Regions from separate parts of the Homo sapiens genome. Here all the other regions are linked to region 1. The links come from fine-mapping of genetic effects on gene expression. A gene starts in region 1. Each other region holds a variant in brackets. All regions are shown on one strand. Distances are between the middles of the regions.

The links.
Region 2: its variant is fine-mapped to the expression of SIGLEC10-AS1 in whole blood (TOPMed, PIP above 0.99).
Region 3: its variant is fine-mapped to the expression of SIGLEC10-AS1 in whole blood (TOPMed, PIP above 0.99).

Annotation. Positions count from the first base shown.
Region 1 is chr19:51,410,734-51,421,349 of GRCh38, reverse strand. SIGLEC10-AS1 (SIGLEC10 antisense RNA 1) reads right to left here and starts at 5,626. Exons shown (of 3, transcript NR_164125.1): 1 at 5,218-5,626; 2 at 4,620-4,921; 3 at 3,153-4,218. SIGLEC10 (sialic acid binding Ig like lectin 10) reads left to right here and starts at 3,708. Exons shown (of 11, transcript NM_033130.5): 1 at 3,708-3,805; 2 at 3,885-4,268; 3 at 4,400-4,684; 4 at 4,993-5,040; 5 at 5,183-5,452; 6 at 5,735-5,782; 7 at 5,912-6,169; 8 at 6,242-6,526; 9 at 6,835-6,928; 10 at 7,527-7,638; 11 at 9,979-10,616. The coding sequence starts at 3,769. The coding sequence ends at 10,251. RefSeq lists enhancers at 3,479-3,548, 3,609-3,778.
Region 2 is chr19:51,373,807-51,380,300 of GRCh38, reverse strand. LIM2 (lens intrinsic membrane protein 2) reads left to right here. Exons shown (of 5, transcript NM_001161748.2): 5 at 39-392. The coding sequence ends at 100. LOC124904752 (a long non-coding RNA gene) reads right to left here. Exons shown (of 2, transcript XR_007067312.1): 2 at 6,388-6,494. Among named protein-coding and RNA genes, the nearest start is that of NKG7, 4.4 kb to the right of the region's middle. RefSeq lists a silencer at 3,517-3,774. The variant C/T (reference allele first, on the strand shown) is at 4,338.
Region 3 is chr19:51,387,495-51,398,110 of GRCh38, reverse strand. C19orf84 (chromosome 19 open reading frame 84) reads left to right here and starts at 7,520. Exons shown (of 2, transcript NM_001193623.2): 1 at 7,520-7,633; 2 at 8,602-9,822. The coding sequence starts at 7,599. The coding sequence ends at 9,127. LIM2 (lens intrinsic membrane protein 2) reads left to right here and starts at 10,137. Exons shown (of 5, transcript NM_001161748.2): 1 at 10,137-10,192. It also overlaps the pseudogene NIFKP6. RefSeq lists enhancers at 2,388-2,597, 3,653-4,249 and silencers at 3,538-3,677, 3,688-3,747. The variant C/T (reference allele first, on the strand shown) is at 5,590.

The DNA of each region.
Region 1 (10,616 bases):
GATGTGGAGAAACCCGCGGGAGGAGGAAGACGGTGCCGCTCTCCTGGCTCCTGTCGGCTGATCCCATGGGTGTGAAATGTTCAAAGGCAGAGGTGGGGCTGGGCCCAGGCTGGGGGCCCTAGAGATCATCAGCTCCTTAGGGACCCACCTCCACCAGGACCCAGGCACCTTTCCTCCCCTCACTCCTCCCTGGGAGAGGCCCTTTTCTGAGCTCTGTGGAGAGGAAGGTGTGATGTGTCCCACCACAAGAGCTCCCCTGCGGGAAGGAGGCTGGTGTCCTCAGAGAAGGCCCAGATTAGGTCACAGGGAAGCAGGGATCAAAGGGAAGGTGAAGCTGGGCTTGGTGGCTCACGCCTGTAATCCCAGCACTTTGAGAGGCCGAGGTGAGAGGGTCACCTGAGATCACGAGTTCGAAACCAGCCTGGCCAACACGGTGAAACCCTGTCTCTACTGAAAATACAAAAATAAGCTGGGCATGGTGGCAGGCGCCTGTAATCCCAGCTACTCGGGAGGCTGACGCAGAATCGTTTGAACCCGAGAGGCAGAGGTTGCAGTGAGCTGAGATCATGCCAGTGCACTCTAGCCTGGGTGACAGAGCACAACCCAGTCTCAAAAAAAAAAAAAGATAAAAATAAAATTAAAAATATGAAAATTAGCTAGGCGTGGTGGCAGGCGCCTGTAGTCCCAGCTACTCGTGAGCCTGCACCAAGAGAATCGCTTGAATCAGACAGGGAGCGGCTGCAGCGAGCCAAGATCATGCCACTGCACTCCAGCCTGGGCAACAGAGCAACACTCTCTCTCAAAAAAAAAAAAAAAAAAATGGGGAGAGGTGGATATTAGGGTCTGAATTGTGTCCCCCCTCCCCCCACCAAATTTCTGTGTTGAAGTCCCAACCTCCAGTACCTAAGAATGTGGCTGTACATGCAGACAGTCTTTAAAGAGATACAGTTGTTCCACTGTATTAGTTGGGGATTGGTTCCAGGATCCCCACCCCTTGGATACCAAAATCTACAATGCTCAGCTGCCTTATACAGTAGTGTTTGCGTGGGACCTCTGCACATCCTCCCATCTCCAGGTTACTTATCACACCTAATACAGTGTAATGCGGTGTAAATAGTTGTTATGCTGTATTTTTAATTCATGCTGTTTTTTATGGTTATGTTGGCTTTTGTTGGTTTTGTATTTAAATGCCGTGATGGGCAGGTGGTTGAATTCCGGGATGTGGGACCTGTGCATACTGAGGGCCGGCTGAAATGAGGTCACTCATTTGGACTAGAGTGGGCCTAGTCCAATATGACTTGAGTTCTTGTAAGTTCTTATAAGAGCAGGAGTTGAGGAAACAGACACCCACAGGGGAACAGCTGTGTGAGAACACAGGGAGAAGTGGCATCTGCAAGCCAGGCAGAAGCCTCTGAAGGAACCACATCTTGGTTTTGGACGTCTAGTCCCAGAACTGTGAGGAAGTCAATGTTGTTGTTTCAGCCCCTCTGTCTGGGGCACGCTGTTACAGCAGCTCAAGCGACTGATACAGTGGATGAGGCCGTGGAGCACACCTGTAATCCCAGCACTTTGGGAGGCCGAGGCGGGAGGATCACTGGAGCCCAGGAGTTCAAGACCAGCCTGGCCAACATGGTGAAACTCTGTCTCAGCAAGGTGCAGTGGCTCACGCCTGTAATCCCAGCTCTTTGGGAGGCTGAGGCGGGTGGATCACCTGAGGTCAGGAGTTCGAGACCAGCCTGAACAACATGAAGAAACCCCATCTTTTCTAAAAATACAAAATCAGCCAGGCATGGTGGCGCATGTCTGTAGTCCCAGCTACTTGGGAGGCTGAGGCAGGAGAATCGCTTGAACCCCGGAGGTGGAGGTTGCAGTGAGCCAAGATCATGCTACTGCACTCCAGCCTGGGCAACAAGAGGGAAACTCCATCTCAAAAAACAAAAACAAACAAACAAACAAACACCTCTGTCTCTACAAAAATTATCAAAAAAAAAAATCAAAAATTATCTGGGCGTGGTGGTGTGTGCCTATAGTCCCGGCTAGTTGGGAGGCTGAGGTGGGAGGATCGCTTGAGCCCAGAAGATGGAGGCTGCACTGAGCCATGATCACACCACTGCACTCCAGCCTGGGCAACAGAGCAAGACCTTGTCTCAAAAACAAAAAACAAAAATGCCATGGATGAAAGAACCAGGACAGGGCAGAGGCTGGGTCATCTCCTCCAGGAGGCCTCTCCTGACTTCCCTCCACCAGGAAGAGCTGACCACTCCTTCCCCAGGTCCCATCCTGAATGTCTGTCCAGCATCCAGTTCATTTAGGGGACCTTCTGTACTTTGTTTCTAAGAATCTTCATTTGCTAACCTGGGGCCCTGGAGCTGACTCACCATGGAGGATTCACCTCCAAGTCCCCCTAAAGCTCAGTGCTTGATACCCAAGGTATGTGGAGGTTGAAGGATGAGTTCTGTGTTTCGGTGTGACCCAAACAGAGTCATTTCAGGAAGAGCTCAGTGAGGGGAAAACATCTTGTAGAGTTTACTCCATTCATTGCAAATTACCCCTTCCCTAGTCTGTTCCCCCCACTCTGCCCCTCACTCCCGCCTTCCTCAAACTCTTCCCATCAGCATTAGCTTTGGACATATGTGTTCTAATCCCAATGGGTGTCCCAATTGAATGACAGAGGAGGAAGGGAGACTGGGAAGTGGACTAGGGCCTGGTTGGGGCAGGAGACTGCTTCTGGGGACCAAGGGTCAGTGAGCTCACCAGGAAGCATGAAGAGGTGGAGCTGACACCACCCTACGGTGGCCAGATTTAGAAAAAAAGAAATTCAACATGCTCAGTTAAATTTGAATTTTAGGCCAGGTGCGGTGGTTCACACCTGTAATCTCAGCACTTTGGGAGGTCAAGGCAGGTGGATCATTTGAGGTCAGGAGTTCAAAACCAGCCCTGCCAACATGGTGAAACCCCACCTCTACTAAAAATACAAAAATTAGCTTGGCGTGGTGGCGCGTGCCTGTAAGCCCAGACTCAGGAGGCTGAGGCAGGAGAATCACTTCAGCCTGGGAGGTGGAGGTTGCAGTAAGCAGAGATTGCACCACTGCACTGCAGCCTGGGTGACAGAGTGAGACTCTGTCTCAAAATATAATTAATTAATTAATTAATTTGAATTTCAGATAAATTTATTTTGCTTTCTGGTATAAGTATATCCCATGCAGCATTTCGGACATACTTATACCAAAAAACATAAAATAAAATACTTTATATTGTCTGTGAAAGCTTTAACCAGGCATCCTGCATTTTACCTGACAAGACCAGCCCCCTCCAGTAACGGTCCCTTCCCCTGTACCCACCACCTCCACCACCAGTGGCCCAGATAAGGGTAGCTCACTGTGGACTTCTCACTTCTGCTTTTCCGATGACCCAGGGCCCAGAGGGAGAGCCCCCACCCCACTACCCCACCCCCAGCCAGGCCCCCAGGATAGACACAAGCCTGCCCTCTCCTCCTACACAGGGAGCTCTGGAAGGACCAGCTCAACAAGCCCAAGGCCAGGCTGGGCCCCCAGGAGACCCAGAGGACAACTGGGCAAGGTGGGCCGGAGAGTGTGGGGGAAGGCAAAGGAGTTCTGTGAGCTCAGCGTCTGAAGCTCATTTCATGCATCAGGCCCCAGGGCTCAGCTTCCGCCTTCGGCTTCCCCTTCTGCCAAGAGCCCTGAGCCACTCACAGCACGACCAGAGAACAGGCCTGTCTCAGGCAGGCCCTGCGCCTCCTATGCGGAGATGCTACTGCCACTGCTGCTGTCCTCGCTGCTGGGCGGTGAGTGGGCCAAGGGCCGGAAAGGACCTGGGGCGGAGCTAGGGCTGGGGTTGCAGGTTGAGCCTCTGTCTCCCCACAGGGTCCCAGGCTATGGATGGGAGATTCTGGATACGAGTGCAGGAGTCAGTGATGGTGCCGGAGGGCCTGTGCATCTCTGTGCCCTGCTCTTTCTCCTACCCCCGACAGGACTGGACAGGGTCTACCCCAGCTTATGGCTACTGGTTCAAAGCAGTGACTGAGACAACCAAGGGTGCTCCTGTGGCCACAAACCACCAGAGTCGAGAGGTGGAAATGAGCACCCGGGGCCGATTCCAGCTCACTGGGGATCCCGCCAAGGGGAACTGCTCCTTGGTGATCAGAGACGCGCAGATGCAGGATGAGTCACAGTACTTCTTTCGGGTGGAGAGAGGAAGCTATGTGAGATATAATTTCATGAACGATGGGTTCTTTCTAAAAGTAACAGGTATGGAATGGGGTGGGAACCCCTGCCTCTCACACTGGGGAGGGACCCTGGGGACAGCCTATGGGCTGAGCAGAGAGGGCTCTCAGGGACCCCTGCAGCACAAGAATCTCCCACCACGGTCTCTGTCCCAGCCCTGACTCAGAAGCCTGATGTCTACATCCCCGAGACCCTGGAGCCCGGGCAGCCGGTGACGGTCATCTGTGTGTTTAACTGGGCCTTTGAGGAATGTCCACCCCCTTCTTTCTCCTGGACGGGGGCTGCCCTCTCCTCCCAAGGAACCAAACCAACGACCTCCCACTTCTCAGTGCTCAGCTTCACGCCCAGACCCCAGGACCACAACACCGACCTCACCTGCCATGTGGACTTCTCCAGAAAGGGTGTGAGCGCACAGAGGACCGTCCGACTCCGTGTGGCCTGTGAGTGTGGCCTGGGAGGGTGGGGTGTGCAGACAGCCCCGGTGGGTGGGGAGGTGGAGGAGCCCAGTGGGACAGTGAGCGGCTCCCAGCTCAGGAGCATCCAGGGAGAGGAAGCTGTGGGGTCCCAGGATGCCGCCGCAGCCCTGGGAGGGGGATGGGAATGGCGTCTGGTCCACACACGTGAGCCCTGGCGCTGGTTGTCACTTGTCTTCCCGGGATAGTCCCACTTTCTTTTCCCTGAGGGAGTTTTTTCCAGGTGTGAGGAATAAATTGTCCCTCCCTGAAGCCAGCTCACAATCTTGTTGCAGATGCCCCCAGAGACCTTGTTATCAGCATTTCACGTGACAACACGCCAGGTACTGAGGGCCGTCGGGCTGGGGCTGGGCCAGTTGTCTTTAGATGAAAAGGCTTCAGGGGATGAGGGGATGTGCTCCTCCCTGTACCCCTTCTCTCTTTCTCCCTCCCTTTCTCTCTTTTTTTTTTTTCCTCCCACTCCAGCCCTGGAGCCCCAGCCCCAGGGAAATGTCCCATACCTGGAAGCCCAAAAAGGCCAGTTCCTGCGGCTCCTCTGTGCTGCTGACAGCCAGCCCCCTGCCACACTGAGCTGGGTCCTGCAGAACAGAGTCCTCTCCTCGTCCCATCCCTGGGGCCCTAGACCCCTGGGGCTGGAGCTGCCCGGGGTGAAGGCTGGGGATTCAGGGCGCTACACCTGCCGAGCGGAGAACAGGCTTGGCTCCCAGCAGCGAGCCCTGGACCTCTCTGTGCAGTGTGAGTGTGCCCAGCAGGGGCCTGGAGTCCATTGGGAGGGCAGAGGGATACAGGGGCTGGGCTCAGGGTCCCAGAGCTGAGGGGGCCTGGAGCCCCAGGCCTCGGAGACCGACCTTCTTACCTGTGTAGACCCTCATGCAGTTTGTGTCTGGGACTCAGTGGGTGATTCTGCCCTGCCCTTCTATCCCACCCACTTCCCCCACCTCAGTGTCCAGGATGGTTCCCTTTACCCAGAGGGAAGCCCCTGGTCCGTCTAGAGCCGGTCCCCTGTCTCCATTTCAGATCCTCCAGAGAACCTGAGAGTGATGGTTTCCCAAGCAAACAGGACAGGTAGGAAAGGGGACAGAGGAGCCAAGGCCTCTCAGTGCCGAATTGGGGGCCCAGGAGTCTGGAGGGTCCCCACGCAGGAGGGTCCCTGAGCCCTGAGCTGCTCATCGATTCTGCCTCTTCCTTCCCTAGTCCTGGAAAACCTTGGGAACGGCACGTCTCTCCCAGTACTGGAGGGCCAAAGCCTGTGCCTGGTCTGTGTCACACACAGCAGCCCCCCAGCCAGGCTGAGCTGGACCCAGAGGGGACAGGTTCTGAGCCCCTCCCAGCCCTCAGACCCCGGGGTCCTGGAGCTGCCTCGGGTTCAAGTGGAGCACGAAGGAGAGTTCACCTGCCACGCTCGGCACCCACTGGGCTCCCAGCACGTCTCTCTCAGCCTCTCCGTGCACTGTGAGTGGGGGAAAGGGGACACCTGGGTCCCAGGAAGGGGACCCTGCTGAGTCCTGTCCTCCCTCCCCTCAGACTCCCCGAAGCTGCTGGGCCCCTCCTGCTCCTGGGAGGCTGAGGGTCTGCACTGCAGCTGCTCCTCCCAGGCCAGCCCGGCCCCCTCTCTGCGCTGGTGGCTTGGGGAGGAGCTGCTGGAGGGGAACAGCAGCCAGGACTCCTTCGAGGTCACCCCCAGCTCAGCCGGGCCCTGGGCCAACAGCTCCCTGAGCCTCCATGGAGGGCTCAGCTCCGGCCTCAGGCTCCGCTGTGAGGCCTGGAACGTCCATGGGGCCCAGAGTGGATCCATCCTGCAGCTGCCAGGTTAGGGGGCCGCCTGGATGCCAAGGTTCTTGGAGGAGAAGCTGACTGGGGCAAAGAGTAGGGTCCTGTGGTTGGAGCAGGAGCTTGGAGGGACACAGCAGACCCGTGGCATCTGTATGTAGACAGGAAAACACAATGGGAAGTCCTAACACCTGGGCCGGGGTGTGGCAGGGTTTCCTAAAAGTAAACAGAGGGGTTGCAGATACAATGTCCGCCATGGGAACCGGAAGCCTTAATGCCGAGTGATGAGCGGGCTTCGTGAGCCCTGCGTGGATGGGAAATGCTCACCTTGCCCTCTCCGTGTGCAGATAAGAAGGGACTCATCTCAACGGCATTCTCCAACGGAGCGTTTCTGGGAATCGGCATCACGGCTCTTCTTTTCCTCTGCCTGGCCCTGATCATGTAGGTTAAGAGGAGGCGTGGCGGGGTCTGGGGCCTGGACCCAGGAAGAGGGGAGGTGTTGCAGGCCGAAAGAGTGAAGGTCGTGATCAACGCAGTATACCTCTGGAGGTTACATGAGTAAACAGCAAACTGTTCTCATAAATGCAGAATGTTGTCCAACTGACAAACTGCGTCTGCTTCCCAGAGGGAATGCTGAGGGCAGTCACGCCCCAAGCGAAGTGTTTCTTGTAATTAGGCACAGCTGAAGCTTGTTAGTAATAATATGAACCTGTGATCAATTAAACAGCTGACCAATTGTTACCTCCTGCTCTCTGCTCTTTCTACCCAATAAATACAAAGGGCTGTAGAGGCTCAGACAGCTGCCCTGGCTCACTAGTAGCAGGGAACCCTCTTCTTCTTCCCCTGACCCCTTCCTTTAAAATAATTTCTTTTGTCTTAAGTTTTCATTTCTACGTTTGTCCTCCTTCTTTCAGTCTCATAATGACGGTCTCAAGTGGTAACAGTAGTAACTGTCATAGTGACGGTCTCAGGTAGTAAACGTGGCAGTCTGTCACAGGGAGGTGCAGCAGGGCACAAACAGGTGGGTTCATTTCCTCAGCATGAAGATTCTACCGAAGAGACGGACTCAGACAGAAACCCCGAGGCCCAGGTTCTCCCGGCACAGCACGATCCTGGATTACATCAATGTGGTCCCGACGGCTGGCCCCCTGGTGAGTGTCTGGGCCATGCTTCCACTTTTTCTCTTCTCTAAAGCTGACATCCCACTTTCTGACTTTTGCACCCCTTGTCTTAGCGACATCAAGGTGGGAAAAGCACCGATAGTTCTGAATTCAAATCCTGCCTGGCACTTACTAGCTATGAGACCTCAGCCACGTCACTCACCCCCTCTGAGCCTTCATTTCTTCCTCTGTCTCCTTTGAGAGTTGGTTTGAGGATTAGAATACATGCACTTTCTCAATCTGTAGCCATTGTTCCATTATTACTGCCACCATTGACATGACTACACTTAACTGCTTAACAATTATGTGTATCATCGGGAGGCTGGGCATCCTAGGGATTCAGCACAGGGGGTCTGAAATCAGCCTGCATGGGTTCAAATCCTGCTGTCATCACTGTGTCATGAAACAAGTGTCTTAACTTCTCTGTGCCTCAATTTCTTTAGCTGTAACATGGAGACAATACTAGCGGCCACCTCCTAGGATGATGCTGGGTGTTAAATATATTGTACTTGCATAATAAAATATTCAGAATATCACCTGGCCCCTGGGTAATACTCTGTAAATTCTGGAAATTATTAAGAGATAACATCTTATGCTGATGACTGCAAAATTGTATCTCGTGGCTCCTTCCCTGAAGACTGTCTATGCAACATCTCCATGTGGGTGTCTAATCAGCACTTCAAACTTAGCCTGTCCAAAACCAACTTAAGATAATTCCCCAGCCTGAGCAACATAGTGAGACCTCTTCTCTACAAAAAAAATAAAAAATTAGCCGGGTGTGGTGGTGCATGCCCATTGTCCCAGCTACTTGGGAGGCTGAGGTGGGAGGATCTCTTGAGCCTGGGAGTTGGAGGCTACAGTGAGCCATGATGACACCATGCACTCCAGCCTGGGTGACAGAGTGAGACCCTGTCTCAAAAAAAAAAAGGCCACGCCTGCTGGCTCACACCTGTAATCCCAGCACTTTGGGAGGCCGAGGTGGGTGGATCGCCTGAGGTCAAAATTTTAAGAGCAGCGTGTTCAACATGGTGAAACCCCATCTCTACTAAACATACAAAAAATTACCTGGGCATGGTGATGGGTGCCTGTAATCACAGCTACTCGGGAGGCTGAGGCAGGAGAATTACTTGAACCCAGGAGGTGGAGGTTGCAGTGAGATCATGCCACTGCACTCCAGCCTGGGCAACAAGAGCGAAACTTCATCTAAAAAAAAAAAAAGACTAATTCCACCATTTATGCTCCATCTCTATCCCCATCTTAGCAAATAACACCACATTTTCCCAGCCAAGTCTAAAGCTTTAGAATCATATTTCACTCCTCTCTTCTCTGTCACCCCACAACCAATCCATCAGCAAATTCCCTTCAAAATACAACCAAGCCAGTTCTCCCTACTCTTCCCTCACTACTACAAGCCATGCATCAACACCCCCCACCCCACCCCGGGCACCACTGGCCCCTTCTGCATGCCTTCTCTGCTTCCGTTCTCACCCCCTCCAGTCTTTCTCTCCGTGCATGCATGCTATTCTTTATTTTATTTATTTTTATTTTATTTTATTTTTTGAGATGGGATTTCACTGTTGTTGTCTAGGCTGGAGTGCAGTGGCAAGGTCTCGGCTCACTGCAACCTCCACCTCCTGGTTCAAGCGATTCATCTGCCTCAGCCTCCTGAGTAGCTGGGATTACAGGCATCCACCACCATGCCCCCCTAATTTTTGTATTTTTAGTAGAGACGGGGTTTCACCATGTTGATCAGGCTGGTCTCAAACTCCTGACCTCAGGTGATCCACCCGCCTCAGCCTCCCAAAGTGCTGGGATTACAGGTGTGAACCACCGTACCCGGCTATCAATTATTTTTTTGAAACAGATTTTGTCTCTGTTGTCCGGGCTGGAGTGCAGTGGCGCAGTCTCAGCGCACTACAACCTCCACCTCTCAGGTTCAAGTGATTTTCCTGCCTCAGCCTCCTGAGTAGCTGGGACCACAGGCATGTGTCACCACGCCCGGCTAATTTTTGTATTTGTGGTAGAGACAGGGTTTCGCTATGTTGGCCAGGCCGGTCTTGAAATTCCCTGGATGACCTATTAAACAGTCATCCCACCCTCCCTTTCGCTGCCTTCTAAAGGTGCTCAAATTTCTTGATGGCATTTGTCACTTACCAGTCATTGTACTTTTGCTAATTATTGTCTGTTCCTCCTTCCAAGATGGAATGCAAGCTCAGCAAGGCAAGGGCAGGGACTTAGTTTCACTCTGTGCTGTAAATCAGTGCCCGACGCGTGGTAAGTGCTCAAATATTTGCTGAATGAATGAATGAAGGATGGTGGTTCTTCCCTCAGGCTCAGAAGCGGAATCAGAAAGCCACACCAAACAGTCCTCGGACCCCTCTTCCACCAGGTGCTCCCTCCCCAGAATCAAAGAAGAACCAGAAAAAGCAGTATCAGTTGCCCAGTTTCCCAGAACCCAAATCATCCACTCAAGCCCCAGAATCCCAGGAGAGCCAAGAGGAGCTCCATTATGCCACGCTCAACTTCCCAGGCGTCAGACCCAGGCCTGAGGCCCGGATGCCCAAGGGCACCCAGGCGGATTATGCAGAAGTCAAGTTCCAATGAGGGTCTCTTAGGCTTTAGGACTGGGACTTCGGCTAGGGAGGAAGGTAGAGTAAGAGGTTGAAGATAACAGAGTGCAAAGTTTCCTTCTCTCCCTCTCTCTCTCTCTTTCTCTCTCTCTCTCTCTTTCTCTCTCTTTTAAAAAAACATCTGGCCAGGGCACAGTGGCTCACGCCTGTAATCCCAGCACTTTGGGAGGTTGAGGTGGGCAGATCGCCTGAGGTCGGGAGTTCGAGACCAGCCTGGCCAACTTGGTGAAACCCCGTCTCTACTAAAAATACAAAAATTAGCTGGGCATGGTGGCAGGCGCCTGTAATCCTACCTACTTGGGAAGCTGAGGCAGGAGAATCACTTGAACCTGGGAGACG
Region 2 (6,494 bases), 39 kb after region 1:
AGGTTTGAGGGGGTGAATTTGAACTTCTTCTCATGCAGGGATTTTCTACATGTGCGCCTACCGGGTGCATGAATGCCGGCGCCTGTCTACACCCCGCTGAGCCCAAATGTGTCCCCCAACTTCATCTGGAAGTTAAAGTGAGGCCACTGAAGAGGAGGAGGAGGGTCTAGAGGCCTGAAATCCTGGTTCCTAGGGGAATGAGGGGGCTCAGTTCTGGACTGTGGGTTTGTGGGGGGAGGCTGACTCCTGGTCCTAGGCTGGAAGGAGGAAGAATAGGGCCCATGGGAGGGAGCTGAGAAGACTCAAGTCCCCGTCTGCCTGGCAGGTTGTTAGAAAAATGGACTATCCATTAGAGCAACTTTCTGGGGCCTAATAAAACTGATGTGAAACTACTAAAGTGTTAATACTTGAGGGACTAGGATGGGGAGAAACAGCTGTAAGGGTGGTGGGTGTGGGCAGGGGTGCTTTTTTGTGTGTTTTTCTTGTGGTTGTTGTCTTCATTGTTTTGAGACGGAGTTTCGCCTTTGTTGCCCAGGCTGGGGTGCAATGGTGCGATCTCAGCTCACCGCAACCTCTGCCTCCTGGGTTCAAGTGATTTTCCTGCCTCAGCTTCCCAAGTAGCTGGGATTACAGGGGCCCACTACCACTCCTGGTTACTTTTTGTATTTTTAGTAGAGATGGGGTTTCACCATGTTGGCCAGGCTGGTCTCGAATTCCTGACTTCAGATGATCCACCCACCTCTGCCTCCCAAAGTGCTGGGATTACAGGCGTGAGCCACTGCACCCGGCCCAGGGGTGCTGTATTATGGAGGCCTGACCTTCTCAGTTTCTGCACGGAGGGGAACAGAGATGAATCAACAGTCCGTGTCCAGGAGCTCACCACAGTTCAACTTCCAGGATATGGATGTGTAGGATAATCGGACAAATGAAAAGATCTCTGAAAAAACTCCCTGCCCACCCCGCCTCCAGTTGGCTCTCCCCAGCCTCCTCTCTCCTCCCCTGATGCGTCCCTTCAAAGGAAACACCAGAACCCTGAGCCTTACCTCCGGCACCTGCTCTTCACACACCATTCATGACCGTGATCTTCTCTTCATTCACTCATTAGTAATTCATTCTATTAATTGATGCTGGCTGGGTGTGGTGTCTCACACCGGTAATCCCAGCACTTTGGAAAACCAAGGCAGGTGGATTGCTCAAGCCCAGGAGTCCCCCAGGCAACATGAGAAAACCCCATCTCTACAAAAAAAAAAAAAAAAAAAAAAATTAGCTGGGCATGTTGGTGTGTGCCTGTCCCAGCTACTCAGGAGGCTGAGGTGGGAGGGTCGCTGGAGTCCGAGGAGACGGAGGTTGCAGTGAGCTGTGATAGCACCACTGCACTCCAGCCTGAGCGAGAGTAAGACTATGTCTCAAAATAAAAAAGAAAAAGAAAAAGAAAATAAATGGTTGCTAACTGCCATGAGATTTACTGATGTCTATCATAAGACTATTTCATAAGGCTGATTCTAATCAGACTATTTACTACAGCTATGCTAATAAATGTTATGTTTATAGAGGCTTATTCCCTAAAATAATATTTACTGGGGCCTCCTCAAATAAAAATACTGTATTTATAGAGGTTTTCTCTAATAATAATGACAATTGAAGATTTCTCTAATAATTTATTGAGGCCTATTTAAATAGAAATATTTGCCGAGACTTATTCTAGTAATCATATTTATAGGGGCTTACTCTAGCAATAATAATGATATAATTATGACTCCAGACTCAGGACTCCAACTTACCTGCTCAACTTACTTACTCAACATTCCCACTTGAAAAGAAGAGGCATCTCCAATCTCACATATCCAAAAATAAGTTCCTGATCTCACACACAGCCTATGTGTTCCTCCCATGGTCTTCCCCATCTTAGGAAATGGCAACCCCATTTTTTATTTTACTTATTTGTTTTTTTGAGATGGAGTCTCGCCCTGTTGCCCAGGCTGGAGTGCAGTGGTGCAATCTCGGCTCACTGCAACCTCCGCCTCCCCTCCTGGGTTCAAGTGATTCTCCTGCCTCAGCCTCCCAAGTAGCTGGGATTACAGGCGTCTGCCACCACGCCCAGCTAATTTTTGTATTTTTAGTGGAGACGGGGTTTCACCATGTTGGCCAGGCTAGTCTCAAACTCCTGACCTCGTGATCCGCCCGCCTCGGCCTCCCAAAGTGCTGGGATTACAGGTGTGAGCCACCACGCCCGGCCAAACAACCCCATTTTTATCCAGCTACTCAAGCCAACAACTTTGGGATTCAATGTTGGCTTTTTTTTTTTTTTTTTTTTTTTGAGACAGGGTCTCACTCTTGCCCAGGCTACAATGCAGTGGCGTGATCACAGCTCACTGCAGCCTCCACCTCCCAGGCTCAACTGAGCCTCCCACCTCAGCCTCCTGAGCAGCTAAGACTACAGGCATGCACCACCCACTATGCCTGGGTAATTTTTTAATTTTTTGTAGAGATGGGGTCTCCTTATGTTGCCTAGACTGGTCTCTGTCTACTGGTCTCAAGTGATCCTCCCACCTTGGCCTCCCGAAGTGCTGGGATCACATGCGTGAGCCACCCCAGCTGGCCTGTGTCTGCTTTTGGTTTCCTGTAAATCCTCAAAGACAGCACCTGGCACATGGTAATCACTCAAAAGAACATTTGTTGAACAATAAATCTTTATTCAGGCCAACTGACTTACATAAAGTAAGTGCTGTTTATTGACTTACATAAAGTATTATTTATTGAAATGTACTCTAATGATACTGAGATTTAATATCTTTTTATCATTATAATAGCCATTAAATATTATGACTAGAGTGCACCTCAATAGAAATGATGATGCCTTCCATAATAACTGTTTACCATTAGCATTCATTTCTTTAATAGAACGTAGGTTAATTGAGGATTAGTCTTTTTAAATTTTATTTTATTTTATTTTTTTTGAGATGGAGTCTCACTCTGTCACCCAGGCTGGAGTACGGTGGTGCGATCTTGGCTCACTGCAACTTCTGACTCCCGGGTTCAAGCGATTCTCCTGCCTCAGCCTCCCGAGTAGCTGGAATTACAGGTGCACGCCACCACTCCCAGCTAATTTTTTGGGGTCTTCCGTGGCAGATGGGGGCTACTGAGGAGCTTTCAAGCCCGGGAGAGGTTGGAAGGGGCTGGAGAAAGTTGGAAGAGACCTGGGTGATTCAAAAAAACTGACAGTGCTTAGACAAGACTGACAGAGACCTAAGAGAACCAAGTGGCCAAGCAGGCGACGTGAGCTGTGAACCCCGAAAATCTGAGACAGGTCTCAGTTAATTTAGAAAGTTTATTTTGCCATGTAGTCACAGCTACTCAGGAGGCTGAGGCAGGAGAATGGCGTGAACCCGGGAGGCGGAGCTTGCAGTGAGCCGAGATCGTGCCACTGCACTCCAGCCTGGGCAACAGAGCGAGATTCCATCTCAAAAAAAAGAACAATAGAAAGTTTATTTTGCCAAAGTTGAGGACATGCGCCCGTGACACAGCCTCAGGATGTCCTGACGACATGTGCCCAAGGTGGTCGGGGCACAGCTTGGTTCTATACATTTTAGGGAGACATGACATATCAATCAATAGATGTAAGAAGTACATTGGTGCATCCAGGAAGGTGGGGACAACTCAAAGCAGGGAGGGGGATTCCACGTTACAGGTAGGTGAGAGACAAATTGTTGCATTCTTTGAGTTTCTTTTTTCCTAGATGGAGTCTAACTCTGTTGCCCAGGCTAGAGTGCAGTGGCACAATCTCGGCTTACTGCAACCTCCACCTCCTGGGTTCAAGTGATTCTCCTACCTCAGTCTCCTGAGTCTGAGACTACAGGCGTGCACCACCATGCCCGGCTAATTTTTGTATTTTTAGTAGAGATGGGGTTTCACCATGTTGGCCAGGCTGGTTTTGAACTCATAACCTCAGGTGATCCACCTGCTTAGGCCTCCTAAAGTGCTGGGATTACAGGCATGGCCTCTTTTGAGTTTCTGATAAGCCTTTCCAAAGGAGGCAATCAGATATGCATCGATCTCAGTGAGCAGAGGGATGACTTTGAATAGAATGAGAGGCAGGTTTGCCCTGAGCTGTTCCCAGCCTGACTTTCCCCTTTAGCTCAGTAATTTTGGGGCCCCAAGATTTTCCTTTCACAGAGCTCTCAGGAAAAGCTTCAGAAGGAGGCCTGGGGTTTTCCTCTGGCAACCACAGACCACATCTGGTTGAGAAAGCTGCTGGAGATCCTGCGAGCAATTCTGTCTTCAAGGCCCCAGCTGCCTTGCCTTTGTGCTCTTAAGAGATGGTCTTGGCTGGCTGGGTG[C/T]GGTCACTCACGCCTGTAATTCCAGCACTTTGGGAGGCTGAAGCAGGTGGATCACCTGAGGTCAGGAGTTCGAGACCAGCCTGACCAACGTGGAGAAACCCCGTCTCTACTAAAAATAGAAAGTCAGCCGGGCATGGTGGCGCATGCCTGTAATCCTAGTTACTTAGGAGGCTGAGGCAGGAGGATCTCTTGAACCTGGGAGGCAGAGGTTGCTGTGAGCCCCGATCATGCCATTGCACTCCAGCCTGAGCAACAAAAGTGAAACTGCGTCTCAAAAAAAAAAAAAAAAAAAAAAAAAAAAGATGACCTTCACTCACCCGCTCTTACTGGCTTGTGGTGTCTGTCAGAGGGCCTGGGCCTGTGATCAGCCTGTGATACCTACATGTGCAGAGACTCACTGGAGCCAGGTACAGGTCACCTCTGTGTATGCATGCATGCATGGGTGTGATGGTGGTGGTAGTGGGACCCACTTGGGGAGATGAGAAATGAGGTTACAGGCTTGGACCTGGAGGTGAAAGGAGAATGAAAATGGTCGGAGTTAGGTATGAATTATAGAGGTTGCAGAGAAGAATGAAAAGACAGTGGCTGGGCGCAGTGGCTCACTCCTGTAATCTCAGCACTGTGGGAGGCTGAGGCAGGTGGATCACCTGAGGTCAGGAGTTCAAGACCAGCCTGGCCAACATGGCAAAACCCCATTTCTACTAAAAATACAAAAAAAAAAAAAAAATTAGCCTGGTGTGGTGGCGTACAACCATAACCCCAGCTACTCAGGAGGCTGAGGCACAGGAATCACTTAAACCCAGGAGGCGGAGGTTGCAGTGAGCCAAGATCATGCCACTGTACTCCAGCCTGGGTGACAGAGTGAGACTCCATCTCAAAAAAAAAAAAAGGGTTGGGATGGGAATGAGAATAGGGTCAAGTTTCAGGAAGAGGATGGGGTTGGGTTTGGAGTAGGGGCTGGGGTTAATAATGGAGAGGGGTTTGGTTTGGAGATAGGGTGGGGTTTCAGAATGAGAATGGAGTTAGATTTGAGGGTGGGAAGGGTATAAGGGTTGGAACTGGGAATAAGGATGATGTTGAGTTTGGGAATTAGAATGACGTTAGGTTTGGGGATGGGGGCGAATCGGGGGATGGGGTTGAGTGTGTAGTTGGGACTGAGAATGGAGTTCTATTTGAGGATGGGGGTTGGAGCTAGGGTGGAGATTACGAATAGGGATGGGATTGGGTATGGAGTTGTGTTCAGGAATGGGAATAGGGTTAACTTTGGGGATAGGGATGGGTTGAATTTGTGGTTGGAACTGGGCTTGATACTGAGTTTGGGGATGGAGTTGGGTTTGGGGTTAAGGATGGCTTTGGGTTTGGGAGGGGGTCAGGGTCACAGATAGATAGGCTGTGTGCTCTGACCTGCTACTCACTGCACACCATGGCAGGTTTTCCGGAGACCTGGCCTGCTCATGGCCTCTGCCACCTCTGGGAGCCTGTGCTCATAAATGTGTTCTCAGAGTGGTGCAGATCTGAGTGAAGGATGGGGGCTGCCGATCTGAGTCTCTCCAATAAAGGAGAGGAACCAGTCTTCCAGGTCATTTCCCATTCTCCACATTTGCCAGCTGTCCTGGGACTGCTGGACCAGTTCATCTCCAAGACAGAGGTCCTCTTCCAGACTACTCCCTATGTATTAGTCTATTCTCACACTGCTATAAATAACTGCCTGGCCGGGCGTGGTGGCTCACACCTGTAATCCCAACACTTTGGGAGGCCAAGGTGGGCAGATCACCTGAGGTCAGGAGTTAAAGACCAGCCTGTCCAACATGGTGAAAACCCGAAAATCTACTAAACCTGAAATCTACTAAAAATACAAAAATTAGCTGGGTGTGGTGGCGGGCACCTGTAATCCCAGCTACTTGGGAGGCTGAAGCAGGAGAACTGCTTGAACCTGGGAGGTGGAGATTGCAGTGAGCCGAGATTTTGCCACTGCCCTCCAGCCTGAGTGACAAGAGTGAGACTCTGTCTCAAACAACAACAACAACAACAACAAATGCCTGAGACTGGGTAATTTATAAAGGAAAGAGGTTTATTTGATTCACAGTTCAGCATGGCTGGGGAGGCCTCAGGAAACTTACAATCATGGTGGAAGGTGAAGGGGAAGCAAGCCACTGT
Region 3 (10,616 bases), 23 kb after region 1:
TTGGAAATCCTGTTCTAATAATTATGTGCTTGTGCTGTCTCCTTTTAGTCTGCAGATGCGGAAGCCACCTCTGGAGAGAAAGCCACCATCGAGAACAAGCAATGATAGCTGTGGTGGTTTTACAAAAAAGAAAAGGGGGTCATGTTGGAGAAAAGCTAAGTAGTGAGAAAAAAGCTGAGGCAGGGCTTGCTAGTCTGACATAATATAAAGAGTCTTGGAACATGCCGGGGTCCAGGGTCTAAAAGCCCTTGTGGTCTTTGGAACACCAAGCTCTGTGCTAAAGGGTGGAAGGCTGCCCTGCGGCACCGTAATCTAAGCCCAGGGCATAAAACCCCTCATGGCTTGGATGGAATCCAGGGCTCAGAGCATGAAACCCCTCGTGGCCTCTGGAATGTGTCTAGACTTGCCGGCTCCTTGCTTCTAGCATTCCCAGGCTCATAGATCAAGTGTATCTTAAACTAGAAGAACATGTTTCCCATTATCTCAAGTAGCAGAACATGTTCCATATGCGTCAAAGAAAATGCTAAACTGTCACAGCTGTAAATCATGCGCTTGATGCACCACTTTCTTTCAACCCCCACATCCTCACTACCTGCTTCTTTGTTTGATCACCAATAAACAGTGCGGGCTTCCAGAGCTTGCGGCCTTCGCAGCCTCCATACTAGCATTGGTCCCCTGGACCCATCTTATGCACTCTTGTCTTTTCTCATTCCTTTGACTCCGCCGGACTTCATAGCCCCCACAGTCTAGTGTTGGGTCTGATCACCCCAACAGTCAGGAGTTCGAGACCAGCCTGGCCAACATGGTGAAACCCCATCTCTACTAAAAATACATAAATTAGCCAGCCATGGTGGCAGGCACCTGTAATCCCAGCTACTTGGAAGACTGAGGCAGGATAACTGTTTGAACCTGGGAGGTAGAGGTTGCAGTAAGCCGAGATTGGGCCACTGCACTCCAGCCTAGGCGATAGATCAAGACTCAATCTCAAAAAAAAAAAAAAAAAAAAAGGAATTGATTATGATTTTCCTTCTTCCTTCTTTGATTTTCCAGAAAACAGAAAGTATTTCAAAAACTAATTGTCAGACGTCTACAAAAGGCCATCTTTTACATAAGAAGAAGAAAAAGGTTTTAGGCACTCTTGACACTCCTGAGAAGACTGTGGATATCCAGGGCCTCACACCAGTTTGTACACCAACATTTTTGGAGAGACGAAAATCTGAAATGGCTGAAATGAATGACGATGATGAAGCTAATGAAATAGTTTTCAAACAGCCCATATCCTATGTAAAATAAGAAACACAAGAGACTCAAACACCTACACATTCACGGAAAAAAAGAAGCAAAAGCAATCAGTGATTTTCAGTGTATTACATATAATATTTCTTCTGGAAAATATAATATTTTTATGAGAGTGGACTTTGTGTTTTACTAGGTACAATGAAATGCAACCCTTGACAAGACTTTCAGAGGTAAAATGCACTGTTTGGTCAAGTTAAGGAAAGCAATCTGTAATTTTGGATTGCCTGCCTTTGGCTGAAATACAAGGGTGCATACCAGCTTGCAGTGGCTTGACTGACATTGCCTCTTTGTCCTGGCCTCTAGTTTTCTTTTGATATTTCACAGCTCTCCTTAGTTACTCTACCTAGATGGAAAGTTGACCACTAACTGCAGGTTTAAGTACTAAACTGCAGCCTTTTTCTATCACCAGCAGTTAAAGACCACCAATCTGGTTTGTCCATCTACATGGTTTGTCAGGGACATTTAACTCATGAGAGTGCTTTAGATTTCAACATCAGATGGTTGAAGCTGGAAGGCAAATTATATGTAGTGTGAGAAGGCAGTTCCAGTTTTTTGTTTTGTTTTGTTTTGAGATGGAGTCTTGCTCTGTCCCCCTGGCTGGAGTGCAATGGCGCGATCTCAGCTCACTGCAACCTCCGCCTCTTGGGTTCAAGTGATTATCCTGCCTCAGCCTCCCCAGTAGCTGATTTTTAGTAGAGACGGGGTTTCACCATGTTGGTGAGGCTGGTCTCGAACTCCTGACCTCGTGATCCACCCACCTTGGCCTTCCAAAGTGCTGGGATTACAGGCGTGAGCCACCGCGCCTGGCCCAGCAGTTCCAGTTTTAGCACAGATTTGCTTATGTATTAGTTCAAATCTTAATAGAGATTCAAAAACGACTTCTTTTTTTTTTTTTACCAATTTGTTAAATTAGTTTTCGTTGGGCTAGCATGGATTCATAACCACCATTTTATACTAGTATCACCAGTGAGGAATTGTATTTCAAGGATCAAACAATAACCAGCAAATAAACTTTTTTCTACAAAAAAAAAAAAAAAAAAAGCATAGATGCCCACGTGCCATGGGGCTTAATGAGAACAAGCTCCATGCCGAGCCCTTTACGTACACTGCCATGTTCGAATGTCATAGCAACTCTGAGACAAGTGTTCTTGGCCAGCTCCCGAGTGAAACTGAAGCTCAGAGAGGCTAAGCAAATTACCCAAGGTGACTCAGCTTTTCAGGGGCAGAGCAGTATGTGACATCAGTCAAGCATGTCAGTTGGACTCCACGCCCATGATCTCAACACCTTCCTGTACTTCCTCTCATTGTGGCAATGAACAGCTAGGGCTTAGGCCGGGCGCTGTGGTTCACGCCTGTAATCCCAGCAATTTGGGAGGCCAAGGCGGGTGGATCACTTGAGGTCAGGAGTTTGAGACCAGCCTGGCCAACGTGGTGAAACCCCGTCTCTACTGAAAATACAATAATTAGCCAGTCCTGGTGGCAGGCACCTGTAATCCCAGCTACTCGGGAGGCTGAGGCAGGAGGCTCGCTTGAACTCGGGAGGCGGAGGTTGCAGTGAGCCGAGATCGCATCACTGCACTCCAGCCTGGGCGACAGAGCGAGACTCAGTTTCAAAAAAAAAAAAACACACAACAACAAAGGTGACACCCGAACCTTGACGCCTCGACAATAACAACAACAAAGGTGATCCCCGAACCTTGACACCTCGACAGGGCTGAGAGGGGAGAAGCTGGGTGAGGGCCTCTAAATCTGGGGAGATTTCAAGGAAGGGAGGCAAAGATGACCTCCTGGACCTAAAAGAGGAGAAAGGACATGAGGGTAGGAGAGGCACTGAGAGGCCCCCCTTGCCCTTGGAAGGGTCCCAAGTAGATGGGGTGGAATGAATGGGAAAGAGCAGGGACCCCAGAATCTCCAGGGACGGAAGGGGGTTCGGGGAGGAGGGGGATTTTAGGAAATCTGTAAGCCCCTACGAAATGGGGAGACCCCGAAGGTCGAATCTTGGAACTTTGAAGGTCTAAAGCCGGTAGGGATAGGGAGTGGAGAGTGAAAGGAAGGGTCTGGTTCTAAGCGGTGGATGGGGCAATGGGGCTCCCCAGTGGGCCAAGGAGATGCCGAGAGGGATTCTCCCCTCAACAACCCAGTCCCCTCTCTCCCTCCAAGCTCCGCTCAGCATCTCCAGGCCTGGGCCGGGTCTCCCGGATGCTACCGGAACCTACCCGCACATGCGCAGACAAAAGCCTCAGCAAAAATGCCTGAAGGCGCAGAAAGGCGCTCGCCAACCAGAGGGAGAAGGCGAGGCGCGCGGGGTCCGCAGGGTGGGGATTCAAAAGCGGCGCGAGTTCTCTGGCCAATCAGAGCCGAGAATAGTGGCTCGCGACGCTTAACAAGTGGGCGGGACTCTAACCAATCGCCGCTGCGTTCCCCTACAAATCGGAAGTCTCGCTTCCCCTTAAGCAGAAGTTGGTTGGCCAGTTTTCAGAACTAGCCTGTCAATTTTGGAAGCTGAGTAAAGGGCATTTCCTTAGCGACACAAGGTCCCGCCTCCAGTCTCCTAGCGCCGCAGGGGCACGGGGGACGGGACAGAAAAAGCCTTAAAGGGCGAGGTACGTGGTAAGCGGTCAGACCCTGGTTTCCAAATGGCGTCAGATCCTGATCTTAGTAATAGGAGAAGCAATAAAAGAACAAGCTAGAACAATCCCATGACGCTAGACTTGAGCAGTGAGCGCCATCTGCCTCTGGGATTTAAAGTAACCGAATGGATAGACCCAGACTTGAAATCTGAAGATCTGGGTTCTCATCAGTCTCCAGGAAAGAAAAGCAAGCCAGATCTCTTGGCAAAAATCTTATTCCGGCCACTCAGTGCCACTAACATCGTCCAGCATAGGGCGATCCTGTTGCCTGGGACTTCTCCTCCTTAAAATGCAATGTTGTGGGCCAGGCACGGGGGCCTATCCCAGTAATCCCAGCACTCAAGGTAGGAGGATTACGTGGGGCCAGGAGTTCGAGACCAGCCTGGCCAACATGGGGAAACCCCATCTCTACTAAAAATACAAAAATTAGCTGGACATGGACATGGTGGCACATGCCTGTAATCCCAGCTACTTGGGAGGCTGAGCCAGGAGAATCGCTCGAACCCAGGAGGCGGAGGTTGCAGTGGGCGGAGATCGTGCCATTGCACTCCAGCCTGGGCGACAGAACAAGACTGTCTTAAATAAATAAATAAATAAATAAATAAATAAATAAATAAATAAAAATTTTAAAATACCCTGTAATCCTAGCACTTTGGAAGGCCGAGGTGGGAAGATTGCTTGAGGCCAGGAGTTTAACACCAACTGGCCAACATAGAGAGACCTCTTCTCTATTAAAATAAATACATAATTTTTTAAAATGTGGATTAAATTAGTTCATATTATTCATTAAAATAGATCTCCAGTCTTGCCAACATAGTAAAGCCCCATCTTTACTAAAAATACAAAAATTAGCGGGGCGTGGTGGCAGGCGCCTGTAATCCCAGCTACTCAGGGGGCTGAGGCAGGAGAATCGCTTGAACCCGGGAGGTGGAGGTTGCAGTGCACTGAGATAGCACCACTGCACTCCAGCCTAGGTGACAGAGGGAGACCCTGTCTCAAAAAAAAAAAAAAGACCTTCATTTTACAAAATAATTTAGAACTCCCCCAACTCTCAAGGTTGTGAAAAACAAGGAAAGACTTAGAGAGTGCTGCAGATTAGAGAAGACTAACGAGAGAGGATGACTAAATCCAATGTGGTAGTCCAGATTGGATCCAGGACCAGAAACAAAGGACATTAGTGTAAAAACTGGTAAAATCCAAATAAAGCCTGCAGTTTACCTAATAGTCCTGTCAGTTTCTTAGTTGTGACTAATGTACCATGTACATTACATGACAATGTAAGATGGCAACATTAGGGGAACTCCTGTCTGGAGTAAATGAGAACTCTCTGTATTATCTTTGTAACTTTTCTCTAAGTATAAAAGTATTCCAGGCCAAGCATGGTGGCTCATGACTGTAATCTCTTGGTACTTTGGGAGGCCAAAACAGGAGGATCTCTTGAACCCAGGAGTTTGAGACCAGCCTGGACAACATTCTGAGACCCTGTCTCTACAAAATAAGGCACCCCGTGTGGTAGTGTGTGCCTGTGGTCCCAGCTACTTGGGAGGCTGAGGTAGGAGGATGGTTTGGGCCCAGGAGGTTGAGGCTGCAGTGAGCCATGATCACACCACTGCACTCCAGCCTGGGTGACAGAGGGGGACCCTGTCTCAAAAAAAACACA[C/T]GCAAAAAGTATTGCAACATAAAGCATTTATTTAAAAATATAAATACCTATGCCACTCCTCTTAGCTGATTATTTTCCAGTCCCTGAATCACTACATTTGTTTTACTTTCAGAAGCTGTTCCCTCCCCAGGAATATTCAACTTCCAGTCTTCCAGTACCTTCCCATAACAGCCTTTTCTAACCATCTTATCTACTTAATTTTTTATTCTTTTTTTTTTTTTTTTTTTTTGAGATGAAGTTTCACTCTGTAGCCCAGACTAGAGTGCAATGGTGCCATCTCAGCTCACTGCAGCCTCCGCCTCCTGGGCTCAAGTGATTCTCCTGCCTCAGCCTCCCAAGTAGCTGGGACTACAGGCATGCCCCACCATGCCTGGCTAATTTTTGTATTTTTATTTATTTATTTATTTATTTTATTTATTTTTGAGACAGGGTCTCACTCTGTTGCCCAGGCTGGAGTGCAGCGGCACGATCTCAGCTCACTGCAACCTCTGCCTCCCAGGTTCAAGCGATTCTCCTGCCTCAGCCTCTCGAATAGCTGGGATTACAGGTGCCTGCCACCACGCCCAGCTAATTTTTGTATTTTTAGTACAGATGGGGTTTCACCATCTTGGCCAGGCTGGTCTCAAACTCTTGACCTCAAGTGATCCGTCCACCTCGGCCTCCCAAAATGCTGGGATTACAGGCGTGAGCCACCGGGCCAGGCCCCTAACCACGTTATCTGCTCTATCTCCCTACCTCGGTGACTCTATATCCTCTTGCCCTGATTTGACATCTTCAGGTACATATTCTTACAGAATATATGCTATGTATGTCTCGTCTGTCTCCCTTACAAGCATGCAAGTTTCCTGAGAGTAGGGGCCATGTCTATTCTGTCCCGTGTGCAGCCTGGAGCCCAAATCATAGCAGGCATTGAATATTTCTTAAATGAATGCATGTAATAATGACGATTGCTTCTCAGCAAAACACTGTCACAACCACCAGCAATAACAATAAGTAAATCTCATGTGTTCAGCCTAATTGTGGTCCAGATTCTGTGTCTACTAATACACAAGTAATATCACAAGAACCTGGACAGTAATATTAGCCCCATTTCTCAGATGGAGAAACTAGGGCATAGAGAGTAGAAGCACCTAAAGTAACAAAGCAAGTTAGAGACACGGCACCTAGTAGAACCCAGCGCCTAGAATGGCTAAGACCTCCAGACCATCTACCACGCCCTCTGCCCTAGGGAGTGTCCACATTTCCCTACCTAAAACGTCCCTTGAGTCCTAAAGAATCTGTCTTGAGGATATGGCAGGAATAAAGAGAGAGAAAGACAGAGAGAGAGAGAGAAGGGGGCAGGGGTCCCGGGACTACTGAATCTGAGAGAGGAAGGGGGCTGGGGAACCAGAGTACGGGGTCTGAAGAAGGAGGGGCTGGAGCCTGGACTCCCGGGTCTGAAGGAGGAGTGGCTAGGACCCTAGACTTCCGGGTCTGAGGGAGGAGGGGGCTGGGGATCTGGACTCCTAGGTCTTAGGGAGGAGGAACTGGGGATCTGAACTCCCGGGTCTGAGGGAGGAAGAGCTGGGGATCTGGACTCCCGGGTCTGAGGGAGGAGGGGCTGGGGCCCTAGACTTCCGGGTCTGAGGGAGGAGGGGGCTGGGGATCTAGACTCTTGGGTCTTAGGGAGGAGCTGGGGATCTGGACTCCTGGGTCTGAGGGAGGAAGAGCTGGGGATCTGGACTCCTGGGTCTGAGCGAGGAGGAGCTGGGGATCTGGACTCCTGGGTCTGAGGGAGGAGGGGCTACAGGGTGCTGGAGGCCTTAAGTAAGTGATCTTGGGGAACTAGATCCAGGTCCCCGCCTGAGCTCTTTCTTTTGGGATCCCGGATAACTCCGCGAGCCACGCCCCATTTCTGACCCGGCCAAGCCCCGCCTCTCTCGGCCTCGGCCCCTCCCCAACCTTCCCGGGCCCCCGAAGGATCTCGGAGGCGAAGTTGCTAGAAGATACGTAAGAGGGCCCCAGTGGAGATGGAACAACCAAAGGACGGGGCTGGGCCTGAAGGGTGAGACAAACAAAGACCTCCTGAGAGGGGGACAGAGACCCAGAGAGAGGAGGGGACAGAGAAAACGAGAGAGAAAGGGCGCGCTGAACAGACCTGCATAGAGAATCAGGAAAAACAAAAAAGGCTCAGGTATCATCACATAGGTACAGAATCTTAGAAGATCTTGGTGAGAGTTGAGCGAGATACTTAGAAACAGGCGGAGGCCGGGTGCAGTGGCTTATGCCTGTAATCCCAGCACTTTGGGAGGCCGAGGCGGGTGGATCACATGAGGTCGGGAGTTCGAGACCAGCCTGACCAACATGGAGAAATCTGTCTCTCCTAAAAATACAAAATTAGACGGGCGTGGTGGTGCGTGCCTGTAATCCCAGGTACTCGACAGGCTGAGGCAGGAGAATCGCTTGAACCCGAGAGGCAGAGGTTGCGTTGAGCCAAGTTAGCGCCATTGCACTCCAGTCTGGGCAACAAGAGTGAAACCCCATCTCAAAAAAAAAAAAGAGCTAGAAACAGATACTCATCGAACAGAAATTTCCAAGAATAAACCAAGAAATGTGAAGACTCCAGGGATCCCCAGAAGGCTGGAGAAATCGTAGCTGTCCACTGTTTTAGCACTTACCAGACCCAGCGCTGTCATACGCACCTTTGATACCATCCAAAGCCATCTGTGACTATAAACAAATTAAGGTTCGGAATAGGAAAATGATTTGTCCAAAGATACACCACCAAAAGCGAGGCCACCAGGAATTGGAACTGAGTTCTGTCTGGTGCCGAAGTTCATGGCAGAGCTGTCTGTTTCTTTAGAGAGACCCGGGTTAGAAACAAAAAGAGAGAAGCGGGGGAGGAAGTCACAGGTGGGCACTGAGGATGGAGAGATGGCTGCCTTCTGCAGAGGTGCAGAGACAGCCTGGCAGCGAGAAACAAGAAAGTACGGAGACGCTGAGCCCCACTGACCTGTCTTTTTGTTGTTCTAGGAACAACCTGTCCCTGCCGTCATCTGGGACCGAGCCATGGCCCCCTGCGCCTCTCCCAGCCCCTCCACCCTTGCTCCTGAACTCCACAGACCCCACCCACCTGGGGCTCCCGGAGAGCGTGGCCTCTGTCACCGTGCCCATACGCCTGGACACCCTCTCCTGCCTCCTGCACAGCGCCCTGCTGGGGGCCTACACCTTCCAACAGGCCTTGCCCTCTTGCCCCTGCTGCTCCCAGGCAGGCCACTCCCAGCCGGGGGCAGTTAGGAGGCCTCCCAGGGGACGCGGAGGCTGGGAAGTCAGGCACAGGCCAGGCTGGGGCCGAGGCCTGCATCGACGGGGCCTTGGGAGAGCTGAGCAGCCAGAGAGGGGCCGGGCGGGGGGCCCTGGGGCTGGCCCCAGGACCCCACCAATGACACTGCCATCACCACCAACACTGCCTGCCCAGGATGGGAAGAAAGAAGCTCGAGGTCCAGAGCCACCCCTGGAAACACCACTGGCTGCTGAGGACTGGGAGACAGAGTACTAGGACCTTGGAGGGTCAGGCACCTGAGATTGCAGTCACCCAGGAGGGTTTTCCTGGGGCCCAGAGTGATCTCAGCCCTGTCAGAAGAACCCCAAGAAACATCTTCCATCCTCCCCTCTCCCCAAAACCACAATCCCAGGAGTAGCTCCTGTGAGGCACTTGGTGAACCTGACCTAAGTCACCTGAATCCCAAGTGAGAAGAAAATCCTAAACCTCGTACCCAAACCTGTCTCCTTGATGGCCTCAACCCCATTCCCAATGCCATCCCCAACCACAACCACAATCCTTACCTCATTCTCAACCCCCAGGGCTCCTCCAACCCCATTCCCTATCCTCTCCCTAATCCCAAAGCCACTCCTACCTGCCTCTCTCTTCCCCACTCTCAATACCCTGTTCCCAAACCCATTCATTCCCATCCCTGTCACCAGTCCCAGCTCCACTTCTGCGCCTCAACCCTAACCCACCCTCTTTACCAACCCCTTTCTCCTCATTGCCTGTGTACCTCAGCCCATCTTTAATGTCCTCTGAATCTACAGCCCCAAAGAGCTCCATCCTCAACCTCAGCCACAGCCCTGTGTCCATCCCCACAAAGAACCGCATTGGCCCCACATACCCAGACACCTGTGACTCCCCACCCCACTGCCTGCTCTTCAGGTAGAAAGCCCTGGTTGAACAATAAACGCATGACTCTCCCTGAATCTTGCGTGTGTGCGCGCGCCCGTGTGTGTGTGTGTGTGTGCGTGTGTGCGTGCTTACACAGCTCGGACAAAGCCAGGGTTGCTTTGAGCAAGGCTGGCGACAAGGTATTGGGTTCCGGGGAGGGTCACAGAGGTCAGTGAGTGGGTGGGGGGAGCCCCCTGGATGCCTGCTTCAGCGAATTCCATTTGAGGCCTCTGCCACCGCTGCATTTCTGCCTGCTGGAAGCTGCTGGGTAGTGGGACCATTGTGTAGGGAGGCTTAAGGGATTTGGGGAACCTAAGGGGGCAAAGAGGCCAGTGACCAGGCTCAGCTCAGTCTGCACAGAGGGGCCGTGGCAGAAGGAGGGCTCGGGCAGGCTCTGCCACTCAGGTAGGCACCAGGCGTGAGACCTGTAGCCCCCTCTTCCCCAAGTCCCAGGAGTCTAGGGTCCCAGCTCCTTCTTCTCCCAGGACCTGGTGTCCTACCCCCTAGCCCCTAGCCCCTTCCTTACCCACCACCCAGGAATCCAGGCTCCTGGGCCCCTTCTCACCTAGGACTCAGGAAGCTAGGCCTCCAGCCTATTCCTTGCTCAGAACCTGGAAGTCCAGGCCCCCGGCCTTTTCTTCCCAGAACCCAGCCCCGCTCTCCCTGTTGTCTTTCCAGGATCCCTACCATCCTCCTCCCTCAGACCCAGGAGTCCGGGCTCCAGTCCCCTCCTCGCCCAGGACCCAGGCGTCTAGGTCTCCATCTCCTTCTCCCAAGCACTTGGCATCCCACTCCTGAGCCCTCTCTCCCCCCAGTTCCTCCCTTCAAG